Linked DNA regions of Homo sapiens: all the other regions are linked to region 2. The links come from fine-mapping of genetic effects on gene expression. A gene starts in region 2. Each other region holds a variant in brackets. All regions are shown on one strand. Distances are between the middles of the regions. Region 1 overlaps SLC1A5 (solute carrier family 1 member 5). Region 2 holds the start of STRN4 (striatin 4). Region 3 overlaps STRN4 (striatin 4).

The links.
Region 1: its variant is fine-mapped to the expression of STRN4 in prefrontal cortex (GTEx, PIP 0.93).
Region 3: its variant is fine-mapped to the expression of STRN4 in whole blood (TOPMed, PIP above 0.99).

Annotation. Positions count from the first base shown.
Region 1 is chr19:46,782,605-46,785,104 of GRCh38, reverse strand. It overlaps SLC1A5 (solute carrier family 1 member 5), which reads left to right. Exons shown (of 8, transcript NM_005628.3): 2 at 546-588; 3 at 961-1,008. Among named protein-coding and RNA genes, the nearest start is that of SLC1A5, 4.7 kb to the left of the region's middle. RefSeq lists enhancers at 98-437, 1-455, 1-1,137. The variant C/T (reference allele first, on the strand shown) is at 1,193.
Region 2 is chr19:46,744,969-46,747,763 of GRCh38, reverse strand. It overlaps STRN4 (striatin 4), which reads left to right and starts at 1,314. Exons shown (of 18, transcript NM_013403.3): 1 at 1,314-1,615. The coding sequence starts at 1,334. FKRP (fukutin related protein) reads right to left here and starts at 1,707. Exons shown (of 4, transcript NM_024301.5): 1 at 1,674-1,707. RefSeq lists silencers at 889-938, 979-1,078, 1,119-1,268, 1,279-1,328, 1,539-1,768.
Region 3 is chr19:46,722,780-46,725,617 of GRCh38, reverse strand. It overlaps STRN4 (striatin 4), which reads left to right. Exons shown (of 18, transcript NM_013403.3): 10 at 1-145; 11 at 239-286; 12 at 690-811; 13 at 2,334-2,504; 14 at 2,668-2,808. Among named protein-coding and RNA genes, the nearest start is that of PRKD2, 7.1 kb to the right of the region's middle. RefSeq lists an enhancer at 1-273. The variant C/T (reference allele first, on the strand shown) is at 1,110.

The sequences.
Region 1 (2,500 bases), 37 kb before region 2:
TTGGCCTTAGCTACTATTTTCATCTTAAGGCAGACACTGTCACACAAGAGTAAGGGTAGCCTTGTAAACACAGATGCATATTCATGAGATATGAAGCCGTCCCTTTTCTCCCTCCCCGCCACCGCCTCCCAACACACCCAGATCCTCCCCCATACTCTCAGAGCCGCTGGCAGGCCCTCCAGGAGGAAGTGGCTGATGCAAGCTGTCCAGGGTATTAAGTTTGCTGCATGGGGTGGAGCTGAGGCCCGGGGCGACCTGCCCTGGCCTGCCGTGGGAGGCCAGCATTCCTCACCCCGAACCCACAATGCCTCAGGGCTAGCACGCCAGCCTCTTGGGGCTGAAGGAGGCTGACTCCCCAAGTCCTGCAAAGGGGTGCAAGCCTAGTTCCAACCCTGCCGGGCTGAGGCATGAGTAGGGGCTGTATTTGCGTGCAGGCGGGCCCCCAAAGCTTCCACTCGCTGCCTTAAAACGCCAACCCAGCCTCTCAGACAATGCTGCCCTCCCACTATGGTATCTAATAACCCTCTGTGTGTCTGTCTCTGCAGAAATATCTTCCCTTCCAACCTGGTGTCAGCAGCCTTTCGCTCAGTGAGTCCTCAGGGGTGTCCTGAGGGGATGGGGGTGGACAGGGAGGGATGCCAGCCAGGGGGAGCCCTTGCTACCTGATTTTGGTTAGTTCCTGGAAAAATGCATGTCAATGAGAATACGGGCTCAGAGCCTCCTGTGAGTTTTAATTCTAGCTGTGTGACTCTGGGTAAATGTGTTTACCTCTCTGAGCCTCGGTTTTCCACCTCTGGAAAATGGGGGTATTGATCATCCTGCCCCATGGGGTTGCCAGCAGATGAAATGAGATCACATTGAAAGGATGTGGAAGGGCAGGCTTTGAGCATTGTTAGCTTGGCATGGGGTTGGGAGGCCCTGGTAACGATGGACACTGACTCTTCCCAACCCCACCTACAGTACTCTACCACCTATGAAGAGAGGAATATCACCGGAACCAGGGTGAAGGTGAGAGCAGTGGGAGGCAGCGGGGGCTCTACCTCTTTGCCTATTGCTATAATTTTTTGGTTTTATTTCTGCCTTAGTCTTTGCTGTGGAATTTGATTGACACTCTGCAGTCCTTCCCCAATTTCTGTCTTTTCTGCCTTCTGGATAGGTCTCTACTTTGTCCCCTCTTTTCCCACCCCAGGTG[C/T]CCAGGCTCTTCCTTTCTCCCTCACCCCCCAACCCCATTCCATGCTGCCCTCTCCCTGCCCCCTTCCATCCACCCTCAACCTGCTCAAACTGGCAGCCAGCCAGAGGTTTTTGTTGTTGTTTTTCTGACACAGGATCTCTCTCCATCATTCAGGCTGGAGTACGGTGGCACGATCACAGCTCACTGCAGTCTCCACCTCCTGGGCTCAAGTGATCCTTCTCACCTCAGCCTTCCCAGTAGCTGTGACTATAACACACCTGGCTAATTTCTGTATCTTTTATAGAGACTGAGTTTTGCCATGTTGCCCAGGCTGGTCTTGCACTCTCGGGCTCAAGTGATCTGCCCACCTTGGCCGCCTCGCAAAGTGCTGGGATTACAGGCGTGAGGCACTGCTCCTGGCCCTGAGTATCTTTTCTTTTCTTTCTTTCTTTTTTTTTTTTTTTTTTGAGACAGAATTTTGTACTTGTTGTCCAGGCTGGAATGCAATGGCGTGATCTCGGTTCACTGCAACCTCCGCCTCCCGGGTTCAAGTGATTATTCTCTTGCCTCAGCCTCCTGAGTAGCTGGGATTACAGGCATGTGCCACCATGCCCGGCTAATTTTGTATTTTTAGTAGAGATGGGGTTTCTCCATGTTGGTCAGTGTGGTCTGGAACTCCCCACCTCAGGTGATCTGCCCACCTTAGCCTCCCAAAGTGCTGTGATTACAGGCGTGAGCCACCGTGCTCCGCCCGAGGATCTTTTCAAAACACAAATGTGACCCTATCTCTGCAGTACCCAGAGCCCTGCCATGTGCCTCAGTGCCTTCAGGAGAAAGTCCAGTCTCCTTGCTACAGTCTATGACCAAGGGCTCCCTGTGAGGTCAAACCCCTGCCAGCCCGCCTGGCTGCCCATCCTTAACTAGTGACCCTGCCCAGATTATTCTACTCTAGCCACAGTAGATTATGGCTCTTCTTTGAATGCCCAAGTTGCACTCATTTCTAGGCTGTTGCACATTCTGCTTCCTCTCTGTAGATCTTTCTACCACCCTTCTTTACCTGGTTCACTCCTCTTGTCCTCCAGGTCTCAGCTCAGATGCTCCTTCCTCCAGGAAGTCCCCCCTGACTGCCCCCTACTCCCCAAGCTGGCACTGCCCTCTCTTGGTTCCCACACTCCCCTGGACTCCCTTATTCCAGCCCCACCTACTCTGGGCCATCCCTGACGACTAATATATTTCCCCTGGACCTGGACTGGGAGCCTTGGGAGGAAGGGGTCTGAGGGCTGCCTTGTCTCTGCTGGGTCCCAGTGGTGCCAAGGACAGGCCCTCAGT
Region 2 (2,795 bases):
CATGACAACCCCTTCCATAGACACACTCTACCTCTGAGAGACATTCTTAAAACATCCCCTGGCCGGGCGTGATGGCTCACACCTGTAATCCCAGCACTTTGGGAGGCCGAGGCGGGCCTGAGGCAGATCACCTGAGGTCGGGAGTTCAAGACCAGCGTGACCAACATGGAGAAACCCCGTCTTTACTAAAAATAAAAAAAAAATTAGCCGGGCGTGGTGGCGCATGCCTGTAATCCCAGCTACTTGGGAGGGTGAGGCAGGAGAACGGCTTGAACCGGGGAGGCGGAGGTTGTGGTGAGCCGAGATTGGGCCATTGCATCCCAGCCTGGGCAACAAGAGTTACACTCTGTCTCAAAAAAAAAAAAAAAAAAAAAAATCCCCTCCTTTGTTGGGCTTGGTTCCTAGGGTCACTCGAAGGGGGCTGCTCTATTATCATAGTAACCAGGCCTTGAACTTGCCTGTTTCTCACCTTCCGGAGGAAGGTCCAGGCCCTGTAACCATAGCAACTGCCCCTCAGCAGAGCATCTCCTCTAAATAAAAACACCTGGTTAGTTTGGTGCATGGGCCTCCCACGATGGGAAGGGGAAGACGGTTACCATGGTAATGCCAACTAGGTGGCTATGGGGGAGGGGCTGGGGAAGAGGTGCTTCTCTTAGAGATCAGTGTCCTTGGGGCTGGGGTCCTTTCTACCTGAATGCTAGGTGGGGGGGAGGTTGCCATAGTAATCAATGAGGATAGGAGCAGAAGGACCACCACGGACACTTAGGTTACCTTAGCAACCTTCTCCTGGTGCAGAGTCCTAAGAGGTTTGGGGCTCCATAACCACAAAGGTGGAAGCGAGGGGAAGGCTGCTCCCCACCACCTCGCCCCCACCGCTGGGGAAGGGTTACCATGACAACCAACCTGGCCGGCAATCAGAGAGGATGGGGCCACTGCTGGTCGCCCTTTCTCTCAGAGTAAAAGTAATTGTCCAGGAGAGTGGTGTTTGGGTGTGGAAGGGGTAAGGCTCTTTCTCTGGGGCGAAGTGGGAGGAGGGGGGCAGAAAGCGGCCCCTTCCTCAGTCTCACTCCAGCGAGGGGGACCGTCGCGCGGGGCCTGGGTCTCCCTCGCCCTCCTCGGGGCGCGATCTCCCACCCGCCGGCCCCCGCGCGGGCACGCTACCCTTCGGTGTAGACCCGGGTGGGCGAGGCTCGCGCTCGCCGCCGGCCCCCCTTCCTACTGTCCCCCGCCGGGCGCGCGCGCGGTGGTTGCGGCGGGGGAGGGGGGGGGGTGTTGGCGCGGCCGCGCAGGCGCGCGAGGCACAGCGGGCGCGCAGGCCGGCCCCGGGGCCTCCATGATGGAGGAGCGAGCGGCCGCCGCGGTCGCCGCCGCCGCCTCCTCCTGCCGTCCGCTCGGCTCAGGCGCGGGCCCTGGCCCCACTGGGGCGGCCCCGGTCTCCGCCCCTGCCCCCGGGCCGGGCCCGGCAGGTAAGGGAGGCGGCGGCGGAGGCAGCCCCGGGCCCACGGCGGGCCCGGAGCCCCTGAGCCTGCCGGGGATCCTGCACTTTATCCAGCACGAGTGGGCGCGCTTCGAAGCCGAGAAAGCCCGCTGGGAGGCCGAGCGCGCCGAGTTACAGGTGAGCGCTGTCCCGGGACCCCCGACCCCCAACCCGGCCCGGCCCGGCCCGGCCTCACCCGCTGCCGCCGCCGCCGCCATCTTGGAGCAATGGCCGCCGGGACGGCCGGCGGGGGGGCGGGAGGGGACCGCGACGGTCCCGGAGGGCGAGTGAGGGGCCGTCCGAGGGGTGTCCTGAGGGCACTCCGGGGTGGGACGGGACCGGGACGGCCCGAGGTGGGAGTGGAGGGACCGGGGGTGGGAGGGATCACCGGGACCGGCCGAGAGAAAGGGGCGGAGGGACCACAACCAGCTGGGAGTGGGACTGGGACTGGGACTGAGCACGCTGGCCGCGGGGCTCCTGAGAGAGGCGACTCGAGCCCTGGAGGGGAGGCTAAGAGAACTCGGGAAAGGGTGTGGAGAGGAGCTGGAGGGGTCTGGGAGACCTGAGTGGTCTCCTGTGGGAGTAAGCAGAAGCTTGCCGGGCGCCGAGGGACTCCCGACCCCGACCCCGACCATGGCCCTAGCCAGGTGCAGGTTGGAGGTGGGAGCGTCCAAGGGGGGAACTTGGGACCCGCTGGGAAAGAGCGGGTCCAGATGGGGAACCGGGAGGATTTAGGGAGAGGAAGTCGGGAACCTGGGATCGGTGTGTTTCGGGGCGACTGGACGGTGGGCACGGAAGGAGGGCTGTGTAAGGACCCGAGGGGTGGGAGGAGGGTTTCAAGGGGTCCAGGATGAAGGTGTGTGCCTTCCCCTCTGAGGAGAAACTTTGGGGATCCCGGGCATGTGTGGCTGCACAGTGCAGGGAAGGGTTCTTTGGAGTGGAAGTGTGGACAGAGCAGGGAATGTACCCTAGGAGCCTGGATGGGAGAGCTTAAGAGTGGAAGTTCCACTTTGGGGGTGTGCAGGAGTGGGCGCGATGGCACTGAGATGGCACGTGTGTTGTAGGATGTAGGTAGAGAGCCCTGAACTGGAGTGTGGGGTGTTGGGCATGTCCAGTATGGAGGTGAGGGTCCTGGGATGGTGCCAATGAGGACGAGTTAGGGGTTACCCTGGGGTGATGCTTTAGGGGGGAGAATTTTGTAGAGCCCGAAGGCAACATGAGGAGGCATCTCGGAACGGGGGTAGACTGGGGTTGGGGGGAAGGGGATATGTTTGTGGAAGTCTTGGGAAAAGACCCCGTGGTTTTTGGGGTAGCTTGG
Region 3 (2,838 bases), 22 kb after region 2:
CGTGGAACCCCAAGTTCACCCTGCGCTCGCACTACGACGGCATTCGTTCCCTGGCCTTCCACCACAGCCAGTCGGCTCTGCTCACCGCCTCCGAGGACGGCACGCTCAAGCTCTGGAACCTGCAGAAGGCGGTCACGGCCAAGAAGTGAGGGCAGCAAGCTCAGAGCCGGGGGCAGGGGCATCTGGGGACGGGGGTGACAGGGTCTCAGTGACATCAGGCTCCTCTGTCATCCCACAGGAATGCGGCGCTAGATGTGGAACCTATACATGCTTTCCGGGCTCACAGGTAGGGAGGTGCCCCTGAGCCTGCTAGAAACTCGTCCTAAATGCAGCCTGACTCCTGACCTGCTCACTGCCATCGCGGGAGGCCCACGGCAGGAGGCAGGACAGCAGGGGGCTCTGAGTCCCCGCCCCCTTCATGATATACACAGCCCTGGTTCTTGGGGCTCCATGCTGACTTTCACATGCCCTGGCAGCTGGTACTCAGCACAGCCCTTCAGGGGAGGAGATGGAGGTGGGGTGGGGGAGGGCAGGGGACAGGCAGCTTGTCCAGGTAGCATGGCCAGAGCCCCAGTCACTGAATTCCTTTTGGCCATCCTTGAAGAATGCTAGTAGGGAACTTAGGTCCTGTGGCCAGGGGAGGCCCTGAGCTTGTCTCATCCCCCTTTCCACATATTTGTCCCTTCCAGGGGCCCAGTGTTGGCTGTGGCTATGGGCAGCAACAGTGAATACTGCTACAGTGGCGGGGCAGATGCCTGCATCCATAGTTGGAAGATTCCAGACCTCAGCATGGATCCCTATGATGGCTACGGTGAGGACAACGCCTCCCGCCTTCCCCTCACATCCACTGGGGCCTGGCCGTCCCCTCCACGCACACACACGTCGCGTCCACCTCTTGCCAACACTGCAGGCCTCAGGAGTGCGTGTGACGGCTCCCCTGTCTGCTCTGTTGTGAGCAGCGCGATGCAGCGCGTGGCCAAGGGACGAGCCAGCCGGGATGGGAATGATGGCTGTGGGAGGAGGTGGTGAAGCTGCCTGAGAATCTCTGTGAGCCGGCGTCCAGAAGGCAGTGCTGAGGCAGCCCAGGCTGGGAGCAGCCCATGCACAGG[C/T]GTGGCTGGCCCTGGCAGCCTCTGCTCTGCCATGCCGTGTACTCTGTGTGTGGGGATCCGCCAGGGTCTCTGCGTGGTTGAGGGGAGGGCATGTCCAGAGAAAGCAGAGAAGGTGGAGTTAGCTGGGCCAGGCTGGAGCGCGTTGGGGCTTTCTCTTTGGAGCATCTAAGACCTAAGTAGGGAAGTGACCAGACTGTCACTTCTGTTCAACATCTGTCCCCCTGTTCTCTGCCTTTTTTTTTTTTTTTTTTTTTTTTTTGAGACAAAGAGTCTCACTCTGTCACCCAGGCTGGAATGCAGTGGCGTGATCTTGGCTTACTGCAACCTCTACCTCCTGGGTTCAAGTGATTCTCGTGCCTCAGCCTCCCGAGTAGCTGGGATTACAGGCACGCACCACCATATCCAGCTATTTTTTGTATTTTTGGTAGAGACAGGGTTGCACCACGTTGACCAGGCTGGTCTTGAACTCCGGACCTCAGGTGATCCACCCACCTTGGCCTCCCAAAGTGCTGGGATTGCAGGCATGAGCCACTGCGCCCGGCTCTGCCTCCTTGATCATGCACCTGGCCCTGTGCTCCACCTTGTCTGGGCAGAGTTCAGAGGTCTTTGTCTCCTCTCAAGGGGAGGACAGACTTTAGAGAACAGGCTCACCTGCACAAGGTCAGGATCGGTCCCAGCTACATTAGCCACCACACTTTCGGTGTCAGCAGGCCAGAGCTGCTGGTGTGGACTCCAGCAACCAGGGAAGCAGTGATTGGACCTCTGAATGACCAGGGGGCTTTGGAGAGACCAGGCAAAGCCCATGCACTTGGCCATGGGCTGAAAAGACTGCTCGGGCCAGGGTTGGGACCAACCCTTGTCCAGCACAGGCTGCGTGCCGCTCCTGGGGCCACAGAACCATGCTGTTCCTTCTTCCTTAATGGAGCCCGAAAAATTCTGTATTGAGCTCCCAGTTTCTGGGCCCTGCTTGGGGAGACAGCTGTGAATAGAGGGAAATCCCTGCCTTCTGGAGCCCTAGAACCTTCCTTGGAGAGCTAGTGGGCAGTGTGAGCAGCTGCCGGGCTGTCCTGGCAGTGGACAGTTCCGAGGGGCACCAGGTGTGAAGTGGGTGCGTGGGTGATTGGAGCCCAGCTGCCTGGGGCTTGGCAGAGCTGGGGCTCTGGGCTGTCCAGGGAGGAGCTGGCAGCCCTGACACAGCCCATTTCCTCCCTGCGGTGGGTGCAGACCCAAGCGTGCTGAGCCACGTCCTGGAGGGCCACGGGGACGCCGTGTGGGGCCTGGCCTTCAGTCCCACCTCCCAGCGCCTGGCCTCCTGTTCTGCTGATGGCACCGTCCGCATCTGGGACCCCAGCAGCAGCAGCCCGGCCTGCCTCTGCACCTTCCCCACAGCCAGCGGTGAGTGGGGGCCCCGGTGCCTCACCCTGGAGCTGTGCGGGATCTGGAGGCTATCAGAGTGGTTCCTGCTGAGGCCCCAGGCCTCCCACCCACTGTCCCCCACCCTGGGGCAGGGCTGGGTCTGAGGGTCCATTCAGCAGCCTTCTCTTCCCTGTGCCCTCAGAGCACGGGGTCCCCACCTCAGTGGCCTTCACCAGCACCGAGCCTGCCCACATCGTGGCCTCCTTCCGCTCTGGCGACACCGTCTTGTATGACATGGAGGTTGGCAGTGCCCTCCTCACGCTGGAGTCCCGGGGCAGCAGCGGTAAGGGGGCTGACATCAGCTCATGGAATT